Homo sapiens: one gene and its partners. The protein of the gene in region 1 purifies or fractionates together with the protein of each later gene. This does not show direct contact. Each region holds a gene or a part of one and is shown on either strand. Other genes may lie near its edges. The genes, in order: PPP4R2, PAAF1, MIDEAS, FAM133B, CT45A1, RAP1A and PUS7.

The links.
Region 2: the proteins of PPP4R2 (region 1) and PAAF1 fractionate together in Homo sapiens (co-fractionation; one large-scale study listed by BioGRID). This does not show direct contact.
Region 3: the proteins of PPP4R2 (region 1) and MIDEAS purify together in Homo sapiens (affinity purification with mass spectrometry; one large-scale study listed by BioGRID and IntAct). This does not show direct contact.
Region 4: the proteins of PPP4R2 (region 1) and FAM133B purify together in Homo sapiens (affinity purification with mass spectrometry; one large-scale study listed by BioGRID and IntAct). This does not show direct contact.
Region 5: the proteins of PPP4R2 (region 1) and CT45A1 purify together in Homo sapiens (affinity purification with mass spectrometry, with the first as the bait; one large-scale study listed by BioGRID). This does not show direct contact.
Region 6: the proteins of PPP4R2 (region 1) and RAP1A purify together in Homo sapiens (affinity purification with mass spectrometry; one large-scale study listed by BioGRID and IntAct). This does not show direct contact.
Region 7: the proteins of PPP4R2 (region 1) and PUS7 purify together in Homo sapiens (affinity purification with mass spectrometry; one large-scale study listed by BioGRID and IntAct). This does not show direct contact.

The regions. Positions count from the first base shown.
Region 1 is NC_000003.12:73,059,311-73,062,810, reverse strand, and holds part of PPP4R2 (serine/threonine-protein phosphatase 4 regulatory subunit 2), read right to left. Parts: intron 1,789-3,500; coding exon 1,751-1,788; intron 1,153-1,750; exon of another isoform or gene 730-1,152; coding exon of another isoform or gene 1-729. Other genes in the region: EBLN2 (endogenous Bornavirus-like nucleoprotein 2), read right to left, coding at 1-729. UniProt on the Homo sapiens protein: Regulatory subunit of serine/threonine-protein phosphatase 4 (PP4). May regulate the activity of PPP4C at centrosomal microtubule organizing centers.
Region 2 is NC_000011.10:73,879,999-73,883,498, forward strand, and holds part of PAAF1 (proteasomal ATPase-associated factor 1), read left to right. Parts: intron 1-3,500. UniProt on the Homo sapiens protein: Inhibits proteasome 26S assembly and proteolytic activity by impairing the association of the 19S regulatory complex with the 20S core.
Region 3 is NC_000014.9:73,725,804-73,729,303, reverse strand, and holds part of MIDEAS (mitotic deacetylase-associated SANT domain protein), read left to right. Parts: intron 1-1,779; coding exon 1,780-1,846; intron 1,847-2,331; coding exon 2,332-2,474; intron 2,475-2,596; coding exon 2,597-2,700; intron 2,701-3,195; coding exon 3,196-3,271; intron 3,272-3,500.
Region 4 is NC_000007.14:92,580,391-92,583,890, reverse strand, and holds part of FAM133B (protein FAM133B), read left to right. Parts: intron 1-2,287; coding exon 2,288-2,385; intron 2,386-3,500.
Region 5 is NC_000023.11:135,720,139-135,723,638, forward strand, and holds the end of CT45A1 (cancer/testis antigen family 45 member A1), read left to right. Parts: intron 1-889; coding exon 890-1,138; intron 1,139-1,519; coding exon 1,520-1,613; intron 1,614-2,837; coding exon 2,838-2,895; 3' UTR 2,896-3,090; downstream 3,091-3,500.
Region 6 is NC_000001.11:111,626,289-111,629,788, forward strand, and holds part of RAP1A (ras-related protein Rap-1A precursor), read left to right. Parts: intron 1-1,181; exon of another isoform or gene 1,182-1,275; intron 1,276-3,500. UniProt on the Homo sapiens protein: Counteracts the mitogenic function of Ras, at least partly because it can interact with Ras GAPs and RAF in a competitive manner. Together with ITGB1BP1, regulates KRIT1 localization to microtubules and membranes.
Region 7 is NC_000007.14:105,480,772-105,484,271, forward strand, and holds part of PUS7 (pseudouridylate synthase 7 homolog), read right to left. Parts: intron 1,670-3,500; coding exon 1,541-1,669; intron 407-1,540; coding exon 281-406; intron 1-280. UniProt on the Homo sapiens protein: Pseudouridylate synthase that catalyzes pseudouridylation of RNAs.

The DNA of each region.
Region 1 (3,500 bases):
GATCCAACCTATGGCTGATTCTGCATTGCAGCTGATTAGCAGATCAGCACTCTCACCATGTGAAAGTCTTCCAATAGATGCCATCATTGCCTTGAATCGTCTCTGAACTTGGAGACTGCTGGTGCAAATCTTATCACTTGATCCAGCCGCAATGCCTATCAAAAGGTCACAGCAGTGGCGGAGAACTGATGACTTCTCAAGGGCAATAAAGTTAGGCATATCTTTGAATCTGCTAGCATAAGGAGTACCCCTTTCCTCGTTCTCATTCCCAACCACAGTATTAGACCTCTTGCTCACACCAACACTCAGTAATGCCTGGTGTAACCCATCAAATATGAAACACAAGAATACTAAACTTGGGGTCACAGGGTGGAAATGAGATTTATGTGCTGGGTCTAGCATAGACTTGGCTGCTTTTTTAATGTCCTTAATATCCCCAATGCTGGGTTGGGGTTCCAATGCATCCAGTGGATACTGTCTGTTTTTCCCAGATAGCTCAAATCTTCCTTGAAGGTCAGGGAGCCCACTCCTGTCCATTGCGTCATCTCCTGGGCTGCTGGGCTGTGAGTCCTTTCTTAGATGAGACATTGTGGAAAATTGGTTCCGACTTAATTCTTTAATTTTGTTAAGAATCATAGGTCTAAAAGATCTTTTGTAAGATCTGTCACAGACCCAAACAAAAAGACTGTGAGAATTAACATAAGCATACAATTTAAGAAAATAACCCATTATTAGTCGCTATGACTTGACTCTGCACTTCTTTACCATTTTTCCAAAATACCTCACGTTCATGAGCAAAACAAAACATATTTTGCTTCATAAAAGAAATTTTTATCATGTATACATTTTAATAGTTTTTCTGTCAAGAAATATAGTATGGGATTATTTTAGTATCTTATTTAGCAACATAACTATATTCTTGGGAACATTCTAAAAACAAATTGACTGGGCTGGGTGTGGTGGTTCACATCTGTAATCTCAGCACTTTGGAAGGCCAAGGCGGGAGGATCACTAGAGTTTAAGGCTGCAGTGAGCTATGATCACTCATCACCGCACTCCAGCCTGGGTAACAGAGTAGTCTATGAAAGCAGAGCCAGATTAACCTTAAACCAATGGTTCTCAGCAGGGGACAACCTCCCCTCCCTGCCTTTCACATCTCCAAGAGACATTTGGCAATGTCTAAAGATATTTGGAGAGGGGAACACTACTGGCATAAGTGGGTAGAGGTCAAGGACAGTGCTAAACCTCTTATAATCCCCAGGACACCCACTCACAACAGAATTATCTGGTACAAAATGTCCATAGTTCCAAGGTTGAGAAATTGTATCCAAATTTAATTCTTACTTTGCTATATCTAAATCTTGACAACTGGAAATATTTTCCATCATAAAGAGAAAAGCCATCAAGTAGTTATTCCAAACATGGGAATTATGCCCTAGAGACACCCTGGAAAGGCATCTAGAATGGCATCTCAGGGCAATGAGTGCCACCACAGTATGTAAATCCAACAATATTAAAATTACAGTAAATCACCAATCTCTTTAATCCAAATCTCTTTAATGGAAAAAACATATAGATAATGTTATTAGTAATATTCTACTTTGGGGACTGAATGGTAGGTTCACAAGTATGTTATCACACTTAATTACATATTAAATAAATTCAGTCTATTTTAAGAATAATATATTAGAAGCAATAAAATGATTAAATATAGTAAATAATATACTAGAAATAGAAAAAATATACTTACTCTGAAGAAGGATAAACACAGCTAACAACCATCACATTCTGCAATAACAAAAATCAGTGATTTAGTATGAAGAAAAGTACTACAACATAAAGTTTCATCATTTTTGTTTCTAAAATCACTCTGGTGGGTTAAATTCCCATTGATTCTAATTTTGCTAGTAAAGGAAAATGGTTAAAAATGAAAACTGGTGAAACAGCAAAAACTAAAACAATAACAAAGGACCAAAAGAGAATATCCTACTCAGCCACTAATTTTTTTTTTCCTATACTTATTTTTTACCCTAATCTAGTTATTCTAGACCCGTAACATCATACACTATACGTAGTAGAGTAACTAAGCTCAGATGGAATCAACAAAGATGTTGAGAGATTGAAGTACTTAAGACATATGTAATTGATTTTCCTTACAAAGCAACACCCAATCCACGGCTTGTTGTGTTGCATCATATATCCCACAGAAAGAGACTCAAACCTTTTTTGTAATATATTTATGATCTTCCCAGTAAAAATAACTTTACTAATATTCAGTGTTCACTGAAAGTTTAGTATGAGTCACAGTAAGTGTTTTGCATTTAATCCCCCTCCCAGCCCTATTATTAACCACATTTTACAGAGGAGAAAACTAACTGGCCCAAGGTCACACAACTATGAAACACTGCAACCCTGATTTAAAGGCAGGGCACCTGGTATGACTACTGTAACATATTGCTACTTTATCTGAAAATCTCCAAAATGTAATTATTACAACTCCTGGAGCTGAAAAGTAAGTACTGATGAGCCATCTCAGTTTCCTGGCCTTTGGGGATATTATTCAATTGAGTGTACAGAGGATCAACAAAATATATTAATCCAGTATGGCCACAAAAACTACTGTAAATCACTATGTAATGGTTTTTGATTCCTGTTCCCAGGGTAAAATAAAGTGGATTTGAACCAGATCCTTAAATGAACAGGGGAGTGTTTCCGGACCAACCATCAACTGAAAATTAGAACTCATTAGTCCAATCTTGGTTCTCACAGGGCTTCCTTCATTTTTCACTCAAGACAAGTCAATTTCTTACTTTTCATTCCCTTAAACACCTTGAATCTTTGTTCTTCACACCATTTCCTTTTTTTTTTTTTTTTCTGAGACAGAGTCTCACTTTGTTGCCCAGGCTGGAGTGCAATGGTGCCATCTCAGCTCTCTGCAACCTCCGTCTCCCAGGTTCTAGCAATTCTCCTGCCTCAGCCTCCTGGGTAGCTAGGATTACAGGCGTGCACCACCACGCCCGGCTAGTTTTTGTATTTTTTGCAGAGACAGGGTTTCACCATGTTGGCCAGCCTGGTCTCGAACTCCTGACCGTGATCCACCCACCTCAGCCTCCCAAAGTGCTGGAATTACAGGCATGAGCCACCACACCCAGCCCACACCATTTCCTTTATTCAGAATACCCTTCCCTTATTCTAACACTCCCTCAACCCCCTCCACACACAAACACTAATGTTTATCTCTAAATCTGACCTGCATCTTTCTACTCAATACCTCATTTACATGCTTGGCACCAGTAAGTTTCCAAAGTTATGTACCTTTGAACTCCAGAATTGAGAAAATGAATTCCATGTGTAAGTTTATAAAACACTCTATAAAGTTAAAATAGCAATTATAACTTCACAGAACCTTTAATAAGTTGATATACACTATGAATTTCCAAGAAATAATAAGCTGCTTTCACCAAACTTCAATGACCAACACACAAACCCTCCTCTACCCG
Region 2 (3,500 bases), on another chromosome or scaffold:
GAGGCCAAGGCGGAGGATTGCTTGAGACCAGCCTGGGAGACATAGGGAGACCTCGTGTCTACAGCAAATAAAACTAGCTGGGCATGGTGTTGGGTGTCTGTAGTCCCAGCTACTCAAGAGGCAGAGGTGGGAGGATTGCTCAAGCCCAGCAAGTCAAGGCTGCAGTGAGCTGTGATTATGCTACTGGACCTCCTACCCTGGACAAGGGTAGCCGTGATCATGCTGCGTGGTCTCCTACCCTGGACCAGAAAGTGAGACCCTGGCTCTAAAAAAAGAAACACACACACAAATACACAAATATATATATATACACACACACATATACATATGTATACTTAACATAAAAATTCAAGGAAAATACTGTATTTTATTTTACCTATTTTATTGTGCTTAATTATGTTCAAAAATCCTATTCTAACTGCTTGAGCTAGGATTGTGCCACTGTACTTCAGCCTGAGAGACAGAGCAAAACCCTGTCTCAGTTAAAAAAAAAAAAAAAAGCCAGGTGCGGTGGCTCTACTAAAAAAAAATACAAAAAATTAGCCGGATGTGGTGGTGGGCCCCTGTAGTCCCAGCTACTCGGGAGCCTGAGGCAGGAGAATGGAGTGAACCCGGGAGGCGGGGCTTGCAGTGAGACCAGATAGTGCCACCGCATTCCAGCTTGGATGACTGAGCAAGACTCTGTCTCGAAAAAAAAAAAAAAAAAAAAAAAAAAAAAAGCCAGGCACAGCAGCTCACGCCTGTGATCCTAGCACTTTAGGAGGCTGTGGCGGGCGGATCACCTGAGGTCAAGAGTTTGAGACCAGCCTGGCTAACATGGTGAAGCCCTGTTTCTACTAAAAATACAAAAAATTACCTGGGCGTGGTGGTGCATGCCTGTAATCCCAGCTACTCGGAAGGCTGAGGCAGGAGAATCGCTTAAACCCAGCAGGTGGAGGTTGCAGTGAGTGGAGATCGTGCCATTGCACTCCAGCCTGGGCAACAAGAGCGAAACTCCATCTCTAAATAAATAAATAAATAAAATAAAAATACACAAAAGACCTACATTTTATTTTAACTAAAATATATAAACATACATTAAAATTCACCTTCTCTTTATTAGTCCACTTATTATTACAAGGACCTTGGCTATCTTGTAATAAACTGTAACCAAAAGGCACAGTTTCTTTAAAGCAAGGCAAATCTTTACTTAGGCTAAAAAAGCAATCTAAGAGCAAAACATCAACTGGGGTTTATATTTTTTTAGATCTTTTCCCTAATATTTTGCATTTTTCTTGCCGATACATACTATTAAAGCAGTATTTTTTAAACAGAATCTAGCTCTGTCACCTAGGCTGGAATGCAGTGGCATGATCTCAGCTCACTGCAACCTCCAGTCCTAGGTTCAAGGGATTCTTGTGCCTCAGCCTCCTGAATAGCTGGGACTACAGCTGGGACTACTACCATGCCCAGCTAATTTTTGTATTTTTAGTAGAGACAGGGTTTCACCATGTTGGCCAGGCTGGTCTTGAACTCCTGAGCTCAAGTGATCCGCCCGCCTTGGCCTCCCAAAGTGCTGGGGTTACAGGTGTGAGCCACTGCCCCCGGCCTAAAACAGTTTTAAAAAAACATTATCAAGTCTTTACAAAGCAACAAACTTAATGTTGTTGTTGTTGTTGTTGTTTTAAATTACCAAGCTACCTTCAACAACCAAGGAGTTTTTTTGTTTGTTTGTTTGTTTGTTTTTGAGATGGAGTCTCACTCTGTTGCCCAGGCTGGAGTGCAGTGGTGCAATCTTGGCTCACTGCAACCTCTGCCTCCTGGGTTCAAGCAATTCTCCAGCCTCAGCCTCCCAAGTAGCTAGGACTACAGGCGCGTGCTACCATGCACGGCTAATTTTTTGTATTTTTTTTTGAGATGGAGCTTTGCTCTTGTTGTCCAGGCTGAAGTGCAATGGTGCCATCTTGGCTCACTGCAACCTCCGCCTCCCAGATTCAAGCAATTCTCCTGCCTCAGCCTCCCGAGTAGCTGGGATTACAAGCATGTGCCACCATGCCTGGCTAATTTTGTATTTTTTTTTTTTAATAGAGACAGAGTTTCTCCATGTTGGTCAGGCTGGTCTCGAACTCCCAACCTCAGGTGACCCGCCTGCCTCAGCCTCCCAAAGTGCTGGGATTACAGGCGTGAGCCACTGTGCCCCGCAATTTTTTGTATTTTTAGTAGAGATGGGGTTTCACTGTGTTAGTCAGGATGGTCTCCATCTCCTGACCTCGTGATCCGCTCCCTGGCCTCCCAAAGTGCTGGGATTACAGGCGTGAGGCACCGTGCCTGCACTTTTTTTTTTTTTTTTTTGAAGGTAACTTGTAGATTCAGTTTTCTTTATGAATTGGAGTTAATGATGTCAACTCTTAAGGAGGAGGGTGGTTTTTGTTTCTGTGTGTGTTTATTTTTATTTTTATTATTTATTTATTTATTTATTTATTTTTGAGATGGAGTTTCGCTCTTGTCGCCCAGGCTGGAGTGCAGTGGTGCGATCTCCGCTCACTGCAACCTCCACCTCCTGGATTCAAGCGATTCTCCTGCCTCAGCCTCCCAAGTAGCTGGGATTTCAGACATGCGCCACCACGCCTGGCTAATTTTTTTGAGACGGAGTCTCGCTCTGTTGCCCAGGCTGGAGTGCAGTGGCATGTTCTCGGCTCACTGCAAGCTCCGCCTTCCAGGTTCATGCCATTCTTCTGCCTCAGCCTCCGAAGTAGCTGGGATTACAGGTGTCCGCCACCACGCCCAGCTAATTTTTTTGTATTTTTAGTAGAGACGGGGTTTCACCGTGTTAAGCAGGATGGTCTCGAACTCCTGACCTTGAGATCCGCCCACCTCGGCCTCCCAAAGTGCTGGGATTACAGGCGTGAGCCACTGTGCCTGGCCTGTTCTTATTTTTTTGAGACAGGGTCTTGCCCTGTTGCCCAGGCTGGAGTACAGTTGCATGATTATGGCTTACTGCAGCCTTGATCTCCTGGGTTCAAGAGATCCTCCCACTTCAGCCTCCTCAGTAGCTGGGACCACAGTCATGCACTACCATACCTGGCTAATTTTTTAAATTTTTTGTAGAGACAAGGTCTCACTATGTTGCCCAGGCTGGTCTTGAACTCCTGTGTTTATTTTTTAATACATGGGGTCTCGCTGTGTTTCCCAGGTGCTGAATTTGAACTCCTGGTCTCCAGTGATCCTCCCTCAGCCTCCCAAGTAGCTGGGACTCTAGGTGTGATCCACCATCTTGTTTCTTGTTTTTGTTTTTAAATAACAGCTTTATTGAGATAAAAATGTGTGCTATCTATGTGCTAGTTACTTTACATATATTATTTCTAGTATCACCCCCAAAACAGTCTATACCCATTAACAGTCACTTTCCACCCCCCAATCCTAGCAACCACTAGTTTACTTTCTAGCTCTGTGGATTTGCCTACTTTGGACATTTCATATAAATGGAATCATAAAATACATGGCCTTTTGTGTGACTTCTT
Region 3 (3,500 bases), on another chromosome or scaffold:
TTTTGGATTCACAAATAGTAGTTTCCTTTGGTTCAACCTAATAGCCACTTCCTAGGCTCAGGTGCATTAGCACACATAAAGCTGGAACATCATGCCCAGGCCATCCTGTTTGCTCATAGTCCTTTGTGGCAGATCTAGTCTCTGGGGCTCTCGAACAGTCTTTTTGGCCAAAAGCAGACATTCTGGAAATATTGGGCTGGCTTGGGGTGATGTACTGCTGAAAAATGTTGCCCACTCCATAAAGAGATCCATTTCCTCTGCAAAATGGGATAATCCAATCCCTTAGGGTGGTAGAGAGGATTAAGTGGAAGTAGCTAGCTTATAGATGCCTTTGGCCAATTAACCTTTGACTGTGACCTCACCCATGGTGTAGCTCTCTGGTGCCCCCTGGTGTCTGTGGATGCAAAATGTTTGCCCTAGGCTGGCCAGCCTTCTGTACTGCTTCCTGGGGAGGCTTCTCCCTGGCTAGGCTGTGTAGGAAGAGGAAGTCATTGTAGAGATCAGACTGGCAGCCAGCGAGAGGTCAGTCTGTCCACGAGTATCTACCGAACACTCGGGCGTAAGGCCTTGTACTGGGTCCTGTGAGGGCTCCAAGAATGTACAGGACACCATGGTCTGTTCTATAGAGAATGCAAGGTCATTAGGGAGTTGACATGAAAGCCTTGGAGTTGAAAAAACAGAGGTTCCCGGTAGTGTGGGATCTGCAGCCAGTGAGCAAAGCCCCAGCAGCTAGCCTGGGATGGTGAGGACTGTATTCAAGAGGGGTGGGGCCAGAGCTGAGCCGCAGCGATGGAGGAGGGCGGGGGGCAGGGAGGACACACCAGGCGGAGGAAATGACTGGTGCAAAGGCCTGTAGATGGGACCGTGCAGGGAGAGTGAGGGGTTGGGAGGTAAGCAGTCAGCTAGGATGCAGGTCCAGGCACATGGGTGGTGGGAGGTACAAATGGAAGCGGAACCGCCTTGAACCCTGAGGGGAGGGTTGCAGGTTTTATCTCACATTGCAGGAGGGAGTCAGTAAAGAGCAAAGATTTTTTTTTTTTTTTTTTTTTAAGCAAAGGAGTGTTTTGATCATGTGGGGCCTTAAGAAGACCAACTTGGGCCTGGGCACGGTGACTCACACCTGTAATTCCAGCTACTTGGGAGGCTGAGGGAGGAGAATTGCTTGAACTTGGAGGTTCAACTCCTTGAGCCGAGATCGCACCACTGCACTCCAGCCTGGGCGGAGACAGAGTGAGACTTTGTCTCAAAAAGCAACAACAACAACAACAAAAACAAAAAAAAAACTAGCTTGGGAGAAACTGAGGCAGAAAATCCAAAGAGGAAGTGAGACGATAACTATAAAACAGCGATCCCCTTCACCACCTCCCTAGTGTGCTCAAAGTTTCAGTCTCTTTACTAGAAAACCACAGCTTTATGTTGGAGTTAGTGTTGGAGCTTCTGGGGGCAAGGATATGGCTTTGGTAGTAGAAGCAGTAATAATAATCTTTATCGAGTGCCAGGCTCTGTGCATTATTTTATCCAGTTCTCACATTAACCGTAGGAGACAGGTAGTGATAGCCCCTTTTGGTGAGTGTGAAAACTGAGGCACCCAAATATTTAGTGAAGGGCCTGCGTTTTCGTAGGTGACAGGCTGCAGAGCCAGGACTCAGGTGCCTGTGTTCCCTGCGTGAGCTCTGTGTGTCACCACTGTGACTCTTGCACATACAGGGCAGCCACTAGGATTGGGGGTGCTTTGCTGAAAGGGGGGTGCTATTTATCAACCTGCTCTTTGTCCCATAGACAGTGCTGAAGTAACCCCGCCTGTCCTCTCTGTGATGGGGGAGGCCACCCCAGTGAGCATCGAGCCGTAAGTGCAGCCCTGCCCCTGGCCGAGGGGTGTGGGTGGCCACACTGGTGCAGTGTGTGCAGGTGGGCCCTGGGAGCAACAGGAGGGTTCCGTGGGGCCTGCAGAGGGCTGAGAGGGCCTCCTTGAGCTTCTGTATGTGGCCCTGGGCTTTGCTGTCCCCGCCCTGCCTCTGTGTGGAAGTTGCAGGGAAGGGCAAGGACCGGCTCAGCTTGAACTTATCTCTAGGAGAGTTGAAAGGGGGGTCCAGAGGCTCTTTCCCATCTGTAAACCTGCAGCTGCTTCTCCCCTCTCCAGCCTCTGGACCTTGCCTTTCTGGTGGTGCCAGGTCAGGCTGTCCTCCCAAGCCCCTAGAAGCCAGACTCCCTACACCTAGCTGAGGCCTTGCTCTGCCGGCTCCCCCTCATCTTCTTCCCACCCTGAGGGATCATCAAGTTCTCCGTCCCCGCAAGGTGAGGCCTCACTTCCTGCCCTTTTCACTCCTCTAGACGGATCAACGTGGGCTCCCGGTTCCAGGCAGAAATCCCCTTGATGAGGGACCGTGCCCTGGCAGCTGCAGATCCCCACAAGGCTGACTTGGTGTGGCAGCCATGGGAGGACCTAGAGAGCAGCCGGGAGAAGCAGAGGCAAGGTGAGGAGGGGCCTGGGGGCAGCAAGTGAGGGCAGGCACATGGGTGGGCCAGGCCTCACCCTGCCCAGCCCCGCCCTGAACGTGGTTTCCTCCCCTCCCTCCTCATGCTCCTGTGGATCCAGTGGAAGACCTGCTGACAGCCGCCTGCTCCAGCATTTTCCCTGGTGCTGGCACCAACCAGGAGCTGGCCCTGCACTGTCTGCACGAATCCAGAGGAGACATCCTGGTGAGAAGGCAACCCCAGCAGAGGGAGGGCCCCTCAGTGGGGGCTGGCTTGGATCCATGTCTGCTGCTCAGGACCTATGGCTGCTGGCATGCACATTTGAGGCCAGTAGGAGGGTCTGACTAAGGAAGGGGCTGTAGGGGCTTGACCCAAGGGAGCCCTAGTTTCAGACCCCGGGTTTTGCTGTGCAGTGTCCTCCTGTCCATTCCCATCCCTGATTCTGGGTCAGTGGACTCAGACTGGATGGTTGCTGAGAGCCTTCTCCAGCAGTGCTGCCTCCCTTGGGGCCATGGACTCTCTTAAGAGGACCTGAGGTCTGTTTTCTGGGCAGCCCCACCCCCTGTGATCTCACCACCCCAGTGGACCCCTTATCTCTCAGCAGTTAAGGGGGCAAGAGTAAGTGTCCACCCTACTCGGGATTTTATCAGGGCCTAGAATGCTCCGTCCACCACCGACACCCCTGTCAGTGCCCTGACCCTTCCCTCACTTCCCCTCCAGGAAACGCTGAATAAGCTGCTGCTGAAGAAGCCCCTGCGGCCCCACAACCATCCGCTGGCAACTTATCACTACACAGGTGGGCCTGGCTGCGGTGGGCATGGTGCCTGGAGCCTCAAGAGGTCTCCAGCATCCATGGGGCCCTGCTCAGTGCTGAGTCACAGCCCTGGGTGGGGGCGGGAGGAGGAGGGTAGATAAGCCAAGAGTCAGAGTGAGGGAACTGCCACCAAAGCTGGGGTAGCTCTCCAGGGGTTTCCTGTGCCCTGGAGGGGAGGGGAGAAGGGAGTGGGCAGGTGGGAGACCATCCA
Region 4 (3,500 bases), on another chromosome or scaffold:
TTTTAGTAGAGACAGGGTTTCACCATGTTGGCCAGGCTGATCTCGAACTCCTGACTTCAGGTGATCCACCCGCCCCAGCCTCCCAAAGTGCTAGGATTACAGGCGTGAGCCACCGCGCCTGGCTGACCCTGTCTTTTAAAAAATAATAATAGTAATAAATAAAATTTTTATTGACTTAAATTTGGAAAAACTAAATAGAAGAGGTAGAGACTGAATTAAAGACCAGACTTTATATCAGTAGCAATGCGAATTTTAATAAAACAACATCGCTTTGCTAAACACTGTCATTAACAAAGAAACCTTTTGCTTTGTTTTGCCTCAATATGTTTTTGAAAAAAATCTCTAAAATATTTTTCTGCTGTAGTAAGTGTAGTAGACAGCATGATTTAAATTTTTGCAGATGTTTTAATTGAGCTAAAATATGTATAACAAAATTTACCATTTTAACTGTTTCTAACTATATAGTTTAGTGACATTAAGTACATTCATAGTGTTGTGCAACCATCATCACTATCCATTTTCATCATCCCAAACAAGAACCTCTGTATCAATAAACAGTAAACTCCCAAATTCCTCTTCTCCCCAGACCCTGGTTAACCTCCATTCTACTTTCTTTTCTAGGTATCTCATATAAATGGAATCATATATTTGTTCTTTTGTGTTTTTCTTGTTTTATTTCATTTAGCATATTTTCAAGGCTCATCCAGGTTGCATATAGTATGTATCAGAATTGCATTCTTTTTTAAGGCTGAATAATATTCCATTGTATGTATATACCACAGTTTTGTTTATCCATTTATCCATAGATGGACATTTGCGTTGTTTCCACATTTCAGCTTTTGTGAATTCTGCAGTTGTGAACATTTGTGTACAAGTATCTGTTTAGTCCCTTCTTTGAATTCTTTTGGGTGTATACCTAGATATAGGATCATGTGGTAGTTCTATGTTTAACTTTTTGAGGGACCACTAAACTGTTTTCCACAGTGGCCACACCGTTTTACATTCCCACCAACAATGTGAAAGGGTTCCAGTTTCTCTGCATCCTTGCTAACCCTTGCAATTTTCTGTTTAATAATAGCCATCCTAATGGGTATAGAATGGCATCTCTTTGTTGTTTCAATTTACATTTCCCTAATGACTAGTGATATTGAACATTTTTTTATGTGTTTATTGGCCATTTACTATATACCTTCTTTAGAGAAATACCTATTCTTCTGCCCATTTTTTAATTACTTGGAGTTTTTTTGTTGTTGTTAAGTTGTAGGAGCTCATTTTACATTCTGGATATTAATCTCTTACTAGATTTATGATTTACAAATATTTTCTCTCATTCTGTGAATTGTCTTTTCACTCTTAACAGTGTCCTTTGATGCACAAACATTTTACATTTTGATGTTCTGTTTATTTTTTTCTTGCCTGCCTACAATTTTTGATGTTAACTATTTATGAATAAAATTGTCATCACTATGACATAGTATTTCGTGGGAGACAAGATGTAGTTGAATAAACAATGAATTTAGAGTTAGATCTTATTTAACTTCTTTGGAAATGAATTTATTTTATTTTATGTTATGTTATTTTATGTTATTTATGTTATGTTATGTTATGTTATGTTATGTTATGTTATGTTATTTATTTTATTTTGAGAGGGAGTCGCTCTGTCGCCCAGGCTGGAGTGCAGTGGCACGATCTCAGCTCACTGCAACCTCTACCTCCCGGGTTCAAGTGATTCTCCTGTCTCAACCTCCCGAGTAGCTAGGATTACAGGCGTGTGCCACCATACCTGACTAATTTTTGTATTTTTAGTAGAGGCAGGGTTTCACCACGTCGGCCAGGCTGGTCTTGAATTCCTGACTTCAGGTGTTCCACCTGCCTCAACCTCCCAAAGTGCTGGGGTTACAGGCGTGAGCCACTGCACCAAGCCTGGAATTGAGTTTCTTAATTTTCTAGTGAACATACTGTTATCACCCTCACAGGGTTACTGGGCTTTAGGAGAAAGAGCTGTAAAGCCATCAGTAGGTCAGAGGTATCTATTATTTCATCAAATCTCTTGTAAAACACACACACACACACACACACACACACACACACACACAATTTTCTCCCAAACTTTTAAGACTTAAAAGAGGATTAAATTAATTTTTTTAGAATAAAGAGTTGGTTAGTCAGATTGCATATACTTAGCTGGATATATTATGCATTTATAGTAAAGATTACTTGATGAGTAAGTGAGGTTTTGCATGTTTAATGATTGCTTTAATGGATTAATTGTTGTTCTTTCCCCAAGGCCTATATGAACCCAATAGCAATGGCGAGATCAAGGGGTCCAATCCAGTCTTCAGGGCCAACAATACAGGATTATCTGAATCGACCAAGGCCTACCTGGTATTTGTGAAACACTTTACCTATTTATAAGCTTTTATCAACTTTTTAAAGTTTATTCTTAAGACTTTAATTGATTTTATTGATTACCAAGCAATTGCCAGATAAGTAATTTTTTTAAGTAACATTTGATATGTGCTTTCTTTTGAATGTGTGAAACACGTGTACAATTATAAAGCAAACATTTAAGAACCCACTACCCAGTATAGCCAAAGCACTGCCAGGTAACTTTTTCATACCAGTCTCTTCTCTATTCCATAAAAGACCCTAACCTTGCAGTGGTCAAAGCTATTTAGTGAGTTTAAGTAGTCTTGTCCTTTACTGATGTGTAACCAGATAGCAGGAAGAATAATATTCAGCTTTGTTTCTAGTTTTATCTGCCAGCTTTTCAATGAATTAGAAAAACTGACTGATTTTTGTAAATAAAGCATCAGAGTATGGGCCATGTTATTCTTTAGTATGTCTTCCTCGTTATTAATACCTTACTCCTGAGACAACATACAACAGGCTTCAGAGCTGTTAACTTCAGAATCCCAAGTGCCCCTGAAAACTAGGCAACTGGTTGAAAAGTATGCTTATGTATAATAGGGAATCCTTCCTTTGAGTTAAATAAGAAGTAAGGATTGTTTACCAGTGTGTGTGAATGCCATTGTTAACCATTGCAGCATACCAGAAAATGCATTATCCCAAAACAAAGTATGTTTTAATGGGGAGAGGGAATGAACTTTCGAGGAGAAATGTCCAAGTAAATATATTACATGTGTATCAGAAATCATCAAGACAGCCCTCAGGTTGAGTAACTCGTAGGGACTCACTGGAGTTTCAGCAGATAGTCGTACTCATGGTAAGATTTATTACTGTGAAGGGCTACCAAGCACAATCAGCAAAAGGAAAAGGCACAGGGAGCAAAGTTTGGGTAAGTCCCGGAACAGGCTTTGAAGGGTCCTCCCCTAGTGGGATCACGTGAGAGGCACTTAATGCCCTTAGTAAGGAGTTGTGATAATACATGTGAGATTTTGGCAACCAATTGAAGCTCATTAGAGACTCAGTGCCCAGGGTTTTTATTGAGGCTGGTCAGCCTCTGCCTGTCATGTACCAAAATTCCAGATTCCAGGGCT
Region 5 (3,500 bases), on another chromosome or scaffold:
CCAACCAGCAGCAGCTCCTGGGGCTCCCTCTGCTGCTGTTGCCCACAGGCCTGTGGACTGCTTCCTTACCACTAGCCCAACACTGTATGTTTCATTTGCTCATTGTGCACGTACTGTCTGACCGCCCCATGAGGATGTGAGCTCCAGAAGGGCAGGGAACGTTGCTCTCTGGGCTGTTTACTGCTGATCCCCAGCTACCGGCACGCTGCCTGCCACAGACGATGAATAAATGAGAGGTGTCAGACCTGGAGTGAAAAGAAAGTCACTTTTGTGAGACAGAAAGGAAGGATGAGGAAAATCATACACTAAAAGGGATTTTTTGTTGATGGAGTACATGTAGAACTTTCAGCAGTAATGGCCACCTCTATTTTCTCAGAATATGTTTGATGTAGAGAGGAGGCTGGTTGAGGTGTGTCCAAGTTGTCTGGCTTCCAGCTTAGTAAAACATGGCAGTTTGTAAGTGAATTTGAGAAATCATGATATCAAGTGAGACTTGCTGCTTTCAACTTGTAAAGCATAACAAGCTGAAACTGTCCCATGAGTACCAGGGATCTGTGAATGTTGCTTTAGAGTTGTACTGCCTTACTTGGTTTCCATGTCTATTCATAGGGCCAGAAAATAAGAGGTGGTTTTATTGTATTATGTGTCCTGGCCTCCGTTTGTCAGGCCTGGGATTTCTCCCTGGTGTATCCTCCCATTTATGAAATAAATAATTCCCTAGAAACTGAGGAGCACATAGATGTACCCAGAGGGGTGATGAAACACACATATCTCACAGCTCAGCTTCTCAGTTTGATTTCCAGAGCTGTCATTCATGAGGTCTATGTGGAGGGGAAAGAAAGTGGTCAAACACCAACTGATGGCTTTTACTCAAAATCTGTTTCACCAGAGCTTATGACAGGACATGCTATTCCACCCAGCCAATTGGATTCTCAGATTGATGACTTCACTGGTTTCAGCAAAGATAGGATGATGCAGAAACCTGGTAGCAATGCACCTGTGGGAGGAAACGTTACCAGCAGTTTCTCTGGAGATGACCTAGAATGCAGAGAAACAGCCTCCTCTCCCAAAAGCCAACGAGAAATTAATGCTGATATAAAACGTAAATTAGTGAAGGAACTCCGATGCGTTGGACAAAGTAAGTAATATAAGAATGTCTGTTTTATAAAACTATAGGAAGTCTCTCTTTCTATGATTCAGAAGATATTCATGTTGCCTGTTGAGTTTCATTCTTTGCCAGAGTTGAGATTGCACATAATTTATGGTGGTTCCTCTTTTCTTTGACTAAAGCATGTACATTTTTTCTTTTTCTTTTCTTACTTGGTTATGGTTAAAGGAGTTACATTCGTATGTATGTGCAGGTGTCTTTTTTATTATTTAGGTTTTGTATGTGCAGGTATCTTGATTTAAGCATTTAAAACATTTCAGCCTCTGAAGCATGATTGCTGAGGTGTAGATTCACTTCTATTCTTCTTTATATTTGATAATACTGAAGTTTTTTTTTTTTCAACATCTTCAGAATATGAAAAAATCTTCGAAATGCTTGAAGGAGTGCAAGGACCTACTGCAGTCAGGAAGCGATTTTTTGAATCCATCATCAAGGAAGCAGCAAGGTGGGTAGAAATAGGAACTGTCCAATTTCTTTAAGCACTTGGGCTCAATAGAGCACTGGGGGTGAGCGTTGGGGAACAGCCCCTGCCTTGCGTTTCTCAAACCCTGGTCCTCACTCACAGTTACGGCTGTCTCCACAGTTACTTAGGCTAATGTTATCTGAGTGTAACTCATTCTTCGAAGACTATGGAGACTTCCATTTTCACCATAGTCTGAGGTGCGCATTGTCCCTCAATTGACACTCTTTGTATTTGCTAGACTACCTCTTTTTAAAAAATTTGTGTAGGCACATAGCAGATGCATATATTTCTGGGCTATATGAGATATTGTGATACAGACAACAATGTGTAATAATCACATCAAGGTAAGTGGGGTTTCTATCACCTCAAGCTTTTATCCTTTGCGTTACAGAGAATACAATTATACTCTTCATTATTTTTAAATGTGCAATTAAATTATTACCGACTATAGTCACCCTGTTTGGCTATGAAATACGACATCTTATTTATTCCATACTTCTACGTATTAATCATCCCCACTTCCCACACCCTCCACCCCCACTAACCTTTGTAGCCTCTGGTAACTGTCATTCTACTCTCTATCTCCATTAGTTCAGTTGTTTTACACTTTTACTCCCAAAAATAAGTGAGAACATGTGAAGTTTGTCTTTCTGTGCCTGGCTTATTTCACTTAACATAAGGACCTTCGGTTCTATCCGTGTTGTTGCAAATGACTGAATCTCATTCTTTTTTTTATGGCTAAACAGTACTCTGTGGTGTATATGTACCATATTTTCTTTACCCATTCATGTGTTAGTGGACACTTAGGTTGCTTCCAAATCTTGGCTACTGTGGATGGTGCTGCAACAAACATGGGAGTGCAGATATCTGTTCGGTACACTGACTTCCTTTCTCTTGGGTATATACCCAGCAGTGGGATTGCTGGATCATATGATAGCTCCATTTTTAGTTGTTTGAGGAACCTCCAAACTGTTCTTCATAGTTAGTTGTTGTAGTAATTTATATTCTCACCAACAGTGTATGAAGGTTCCCTTTTCTCCACACCCTTGCCAGCATTTGTTATGCCGGCTAGACTGCCTCTTACCATGCAGATACATTTCTATTTCCATGCTGACTGTTACTTCATCTTTCTATCTGTCACAGCGCTTCCTACAGCATAGGTTCTTTGGCTATCTTTTGGTTAATGACATGTCTCTTTCTTTTCAGATGTATGAGACGAGACTTTGTTAAGCACCTTAAGAAGAAACTGAAACGTATGATTTGAGAATACTTGTCCCTGGAGGATTATCACACCCCAAATGCATAATCTCGTTAATGATTGAGGAGAGAAAAGGATCAGATTGCTGTTTTCTACAATGGAGCAGGATATTGCTGAAGTCTCCTGGCATATGTTACCGAATCAAATAGCCTTCCAGAGGCTAAGAAATTTCTGTTAGTAAAAGATGTTCTTTTTCCCAAAGCATTTTATTTGAAAGGATAACTTGTGTTTTGGTTATTTTGTATTCCCACCTGTGCTGGTAGATATTATTAACCCATTAGGTAAATACTATTACAGTCGTGGTTTCTGCAGCAGCTCACAGTGTTGTAGCTGGTATTTATCACTACGTTCTTTCGCTACCCATTTCACATTCCCTTTGCCCTGAGATAGCATGTCAGTTGGTCATGATGCTTGGCCTGGCAGGATGACTCAAACCTTCATTACGGAAGAGTCTGAACCATTAGATGTCCTGCCTGGATGGGGTTGCTGTGATCTTCCATTAACTCTAATCGAAAAACACGGGAGGACTAAGAAGCTCTCTAGACATATCACACATACTCTTCCTTAGCCCCTGGTGTAGTGGGAACCCGATCTCAATGTTGAAATCTGTA
Region 6 (3,500 bases), on another chromosome or scaffold:
TAAGAATTGTTTGCTTTACTGCCTGTTTTACTTCAGTCCAAGACTTATTTTTTGTAAATAGCTTTTCTGCATATGTATACATACACACACACACACACACACACACACACACATATGCATGTATATACACACGTTGTAGGGAAGTTGTTTCCTGGTTCAGCTAGCAATTTCAATTCTCTGTTTAACGTCAGAAGTTGTTTTGTAGAATGGGATGTTAATATTTTTTTCTACACTGATTAAAATCATCCTTTGCCACTAAAGTCAAGTATCTGCTAGGACAGAAATGTGCAAATAGCATGCGTAAATGTGCATTTTTAGTGACTGTTGTTAGCTTGACAGTTTTATTTTCAAGATCCTCTTCTCTCCCGACCTAATTAATTATGATGTGTTTATAAGGCAACAATAATATATTTAGTTAGTTTGCAAAATGAGAACAATTTTTCTGGTTTTTCCATTTTTGCATGTTTTGAGTTTGGATTAATTGGACTTGTATTATTCTCAGTAGACATATATAATAAAATAGTCCATTTAACTGTGATTCTTTCTCTTGGAACATTGGCTGACTTTTAGATAGTGAGCCTTGTGCAGTTTCATAAATACAGGTACTACTGAGTTTTGGATGACATTCTTTACACAACCTAAAAGTAAAGGTGAGCATAATAGAAGCTGGAAACAAGCTGCTGGGCATAATAGAAGCTGGTAACAAGTCTGACGTTTTCTTTGCACTAGGAAATGTATTTCTTATTCCAAGTAATATGCCCTTGTTAGGTTCAGGATCTTTTTCAGTGGTTATAACTGCTTAAACATTTTTTTTTCTGTTTAAAGTAATTCATGTTATACTGTGGCAAATTTTGAAAAAAATGTTAAGTGTAAAGAATAAATTGAAAACATCCATGATCCTATCATCCAGAAAAAATTACTACTGATACTTTAATATACATTTTTCCAGTTTATTCCTTGCATGTACGGATTTTTTATTTATTTTTTTTACGAAACTTAGAATTATAACTTTATATATACTGTTTTGATCATACTTTTTTTTCCTGAATGGGATGTTGGTCTCCTAGTTTGAGACTTTAAAGTTGATTCTTTATAATATTACTGTTTTAAATAACACTGGGACAGACATTTTTTGTACATGTATCTTTGATTGCATCTCTGTTTTTTTTTTCTTCCTGTAGGATAGATTCCCAGAAGTGGGATAACTGGATCAGAGGGTGATTACCCTGTGTATAAGAGTATGTGTCTCACTGCACCTTCAATGGCATTGAGTAGGTCAGTTTTTACAATCTTTGCCAATGTGATAGATATCTGTTACATTCTTGGGTGGTAATAGCAGAAATCCTCATATTATTAATAATCTGTAAAACCATCATAGTGTATGAAAGAAATTTGCAATTGTCCTGAAATGAGTTTCTTTAAAAATATTTTAGGTAAAAGTAATCTGTGACCAAAAAAAAAATTACTGATTAAAGTTGGAATTTCAGCATTTTTTTTTTTGGAGAGCTAGAATTTTAATGTTCTTTTATTAAAATGACAAACATGAGAAAGCTTGTTTTATAGTATGTAATAAATATAAATATTATGTAAAACTAAATTATTTCAGATAGATGAGGGGGGTAGTCACATGGTTCTGACTTTGAAAAAACAAAAAAAAAATCTGTGAATGTTTAGAGCAGTAGCTCTGGAGTTGGGCAGCCTGGGTTTGTGTCCTTGCTTTGCCACTTACTAAGTACATGATTGGAGGCAACCTGCTAAATATGTGTATGATTTGATTTTTCTGAACCTTGGCTTCCTTATTTTTATAAAAGGAGAATAATATCTACCCCATAGGATTGTTGAGAGGATTAGAATAATGTGTAAGACCACTTGGCACATAGGTATTTAATAAAAACTAGCTATTTTCGTTAAATTTGTTTTTTCTGCCAGTCTCCTCAAGGGCAAGAAATATCTCATTTTTGTGTTTCTGTTTACATGAATAAATACTGAAATGCAAATGGGCTGTGGTGAGCAGTGGCAGCAGGAGGGGAATGGTGGACATTCTTTGTGGTAGGAATGGCATGTGCCAAGATAGAAAGAAAGTTCAGGAGAAGTTGGAGGACAGGTGATTAATTTGACAGAAGCCTAGGCTTTTGTATAGTTAGAAAATATGGAGATAAGGGAGAATTATGGAGATTGGGGCTAGACTTTTAAGCCATTGAATGCTACGTTGATAAGTGTAGACTTTTTCAGGAGTACAAGCTTTGGTATGTGGAAAATGACTTGATAAAAGCATTCATCGAAAAGCAGATGAATTCGCTTGTAGAGTAAAGAATGAATTGAGGAAGGAAGAGGTTGAAGACAGGGAATCTGGATTAATAGTAACACAGGTAAGGTAAGATCTGAGGGTTTAAAGGAAAACAAAAGGGAGGGTTTTGGAGGAAGTGCTTAGGCTTCATGTTTGTGAAGATCTGTACAACCAATTTGGAGATCAAATTCAAAAGAAACAGCCTAGGCTTACATGCAGTTAGGCAGCCTTTGAGAGAAGATGGGACTCAGTACACTTTGGTTGTTACTATTGTTTTTTTAAAAATTGAAGGATAAAACATTCCAAGATTCCTATCATTTCGTCAGTAAAAAGCATATATTTATGCTTTTAAAAATATATATGTACAATCTCCTGCAGTAATTTTATTTAGTTAGCATTTTGAGTTCTTGGTTAACAGGATATCCTCGCTTTTAGACTTTGTATTTCTGGAGCTATTACCTTAAAACTCTTCACTGTAAGGTGAAATTCTTCTGCATGTGGTTTTTGTAGCATTTGTGATTGCTGCAGGACTTTAAAAAAACCAGTCGTGTGAGCAGAGGTGATGAGAAGTGAAATACAGACTTCTTGTTTGTTAAGCAGCTTCTAAGTAAAATATAGGAGCAAAAAAATGGGAAATTGTGTGTATGATGTTTAGAAAAACATTACTTTTAGTGTTCCTGTTTTCTCTCTCAGCCCTGAATTTTCCTAATTAAAAAAAGAGAGTTTGCAGATGCCATTTTTAGTCATTCTAGAACCTGACTAGAGCTCTACTCATACTTTCCACTTGACTGAATAATATAAAGCAAGTTAGCCAGAGATTGATATTAATAGTATTTCTTTTTGACTGATAAGTAAACTCACATGAACTGTGAATTGTCTGCTCGGTATCTTCCAATGGAGAAAAGAAGCAACCACCAATTTAAAAAAATACAGGCTTGTGATACTTATAAGGTGTTTGCATTTTTTAAAACAGTGAGTTATCATACCTTTCTTAATGTTTCTTTTAGTTTCCAAATACTGCCTAAATTCAGAAATAAAGTACTTATTATTTTTATTCAAATCTCTTCCCTTTAAAACTATCCTTGAAAATATTTTTAAATTAATAAGCAAATGTAACTCACAGTGCTCGTAGTGTTGGGGATTGTGTGCGTGTGACTTTTTTTTACAAATACTGTGTTTTTCCTGTGTGAATCTGCAAAAGCCCAGATCTGGT
Region 7 (3,500 bases), on another chromosome or scaffold:
GTCTCAGAAAAAATAAATATATAAAATAAAATAAAAAAATAAAAATAGAACCCCTGGATGGGTAACCAAGAGTGGTAGGAAAGCTCACTTTTCAGGTCATATCCTTTTGAACTCCGATTTTTTACCCTGTGCACTCATTAACTTAAAACAAAAATCATGAAACTGTGGTTCATTTGCCCCAGACATGGGAGAACGTAGAAATAATTAAAAACACCACCACCAACAAACCCTGCTTTGTTTATGAGAAAGCTATTTTTGATAAAAGAAATTAAATACCAACCTTCCAACCTGATACGTAGGGACAGCTGTGGTTCCAAATCTTTGCATTCCATAGTAGTTAATAAATCCAATCTCCTTGAGAGAGTTCATAGCTTGCTGTACTTGGTCATCAGTTCCTGTTATATTTCTACAGGGACACAAATTATCCAGAGGAAAAAAAGTTACAGTCAAATACTCAGGGATGCAGCTCATAAATGACTACGGCCTGGCTTCCAAGTCTTTCGTTCACTCTCCTGCAGCTTTCTCTCTACCTCCCAAGGGCTCTTTCTTTCTTTAAGTTGTGGTAAGATATTTATAATGTCAAATTTACTATTTTAGCCATTTTTAAGTGTGCAATTTGGCGGTATTAACCCATTTATGGCAGAGGTTGCAATTTTTTGAATTTTTGCAATCAGACCTTGGCGATGACCTTGAGCAGTAGGATATAAATAATTCCTACATGCTTAGTGTTCCAATAATGGAACACTAGCATAAATGGGTTAATTATATGCACAATGTTGGACAATCCTCACCACTATCTACTTCCCAAATTTTTTCCCGTTTCCAAAATGAAACTCTGTACCCCTAAACAGTAACTTTCCATTACCCCTACCCTACCCTTTCCCCAGTAACCACTATTTTACTTTCTATGTCCATGGATTTGCCTATTCTAGGCGCTTTAAGTGGAATCACAGGCTCAGTGTCTTTTTTTTTTTTTTGAGTTGGAGTCTCACTCTGTCCCCTAGGCTGGAGTGCAGTGGAGCGATCTCGGCTCACTGCAAGTTCTGCCTCCTCGGTTCACGCCATTCTCCTGCCTCAGCCTCCTGAGTAGCTGGGACTACAGGTGTCTGCCACCACGCCCGGCTAATTTTTTGTATTTTTAGTAGAGACAGGGTTTCACCGTATTAGCCAGGATGGTCTCGATCTCCTGACCTTGTGATCCACCTGCCAAGGCCTCCCAAAGTGCTGGGATTACAGGCGTGAGCCACTGCGCCCAGCCGGCTCGGTGTCTTTTACTACAATATTTGAAGGAGATGGTGTCTTTCCAAAGGCTGCACTAGGTTTTCAAGGGGCAAGGTGTCCACACAAATCCTACAGAGGTATTTGCTCTCACAGAGGTATCTGCTCTCCCAGCCCTGCCAGGCCCTGCTCTGCCCTCCCTTGCTGCCACTCCTGTTCTGTTAGTACCAGCTCACCAGGACCTTATGACCAACCGTGAGTAACATACTCAAGATGCCCTGGCCAGACCCTCTGGTCTACATTCCCACCTGCAGTTCTTTACCTGAGAACAACAGTGAAGTGGTTTCCTTGAAGCTCTCCCAATTTCAGTGGGTTTTTTTGATAGCTGAAATTCCCTAGCTTAAAGTTCATCAAGCACTTATTCAGGTGGGCAAGTCTTTGTGCAGTTATTCTTTAAAAAAAAAAAAAAAAGCAACAAAACAAAAAAGAGTAGAAAGAGGATCATGAGATACTGATTGTCTGCTTGGAACAGTACAGAAAACAAGATACAGCACACCTATGACCCCCTGAAAGGAAAAGGCACTGCAGCAGGTGAGGTGGGCGTGTCCTTCTCTTCTCTCTGCATTCTTCCTTCAGTGTAATGGTACGTGCTCCTGTTCAAATTGCATACTCCTGGCCATATTTTATATACTTAAAGCCTCTTGTTATTTACATGCTGATGAGTAACAGAACAATAATATCTGTGGAATTTTCTACTTTTTGTGGGGAGAGGGGTGAGAAAAGGGATGGGGACAGAGACAAATCCCATAGAAAGAATGGTATCAAGCATTTAAAAAAAGGTCATTATTTTTGTCAATCAGAAAAATTTTGTAAACTCATTACAGAAAACTTGGAAAATATAAAAAAGAGAAAAGGAAAAGAAATTCATATTTTCATTGCCTGAAAAAAATTTCCACTGACATCTAACTTTTTATTTCCTCCCTTTCTTTTTTTAAAAGACATGTTATATATAGCTGGAATTCTACCCAAATCTGTATCATGCTGCTATCAATATATAGAAATTTTCATTAGAAATTCCTTGCCTTCTTCAATAGGAAATGTATATAGAGAAACAGAGTACTGAAAAGCCTTTCTCCCCTTTTTATCTCTAGTGTCACCACTAACACCCAATGTTGTTTCTTTCTTTCCTTTTTTTTTTTTGAGACAGTCTCTCTCTGTTGCCCAGACTGGAGTGCAGTGGCATGATCTCAGCTCACTCTGCCTCCCTGGCTCAAGTGAATCTCCTGCCTCAGCCTCCCAAGTAGCTGGGCTTACAGGCGCACACCACCATGCCCGGCTAATTTTTTTTTAGTTTTAGTACAGATGGGGTTTCACCATGTTGGCCAGGCTGGTCTTGAACTCCTGACCTCAGGTGATCCGCCCGCCTCGGCCTCCCAAAGTGCTGAGATTACAGGTATGAGCCACCGTGCCCAGCTAATTTTTATATTTTTAGTAGAGACGGGTTTCACCATGTTGGCCAGGCTGGTCTTGAACTCCTGACCTCAGGTGATCCACCCACATTGGCCTCGCACAGTGCTGCGATTACAGGCGTGAGATAAGTTCAAGAGATTCTTCTGCCTGAGCCTCCCGAGTAGCTGAGAATACAGGTACATGCCACCACACCTGGCTATGTTTTTTTGTATTTTCAGTAGAGACAGAGTTTCACTATGTTGGCCAGGCTGGTCTCGATCTCCTGGCCTCAAGTGATCCACCCACCTCAGCTTCCCAAAGTGTTGGGATTACAGCCATGAGCCAGTGCACCTGGCCATCTTTTTGTTTTTTAGGCTGCCAGGATCCAATTGAGGATCACACATTGCAGCTGTGATGTCTGTTTGGTTTCCACTAAGTGATCTGTCTAGCCTTGTTTTTCATGATATCTGGCCCTTAGAAGAATCCAGGCCAGCGCTTTTACACGTCTTTCAATGTGGATTTATCTGATTGTTTCCTCATGCTGAGACTCAGGTAAACACTTTGGTAGAAATATTACTGAGGTGATATGGCCCTTTTCAATGCATCACATCAAAAGGCAGTGATTTTGTCCAACAATGATAATAACTTTAATCATTTAATTAGGATAGTATTTACTAGATTTTTACACTCTAAGAGTCTCTTTGTCTTTGCTTTTAATTAGTCATCAGTGGGGAAATACTTTTGAAATTGTGTAAAAATCCTGTTCCCCCAAAGTCTTTACCCAATTATTTAGGTACCCAAGCATGATTGTTGGCTGAATTGATTATTACTGT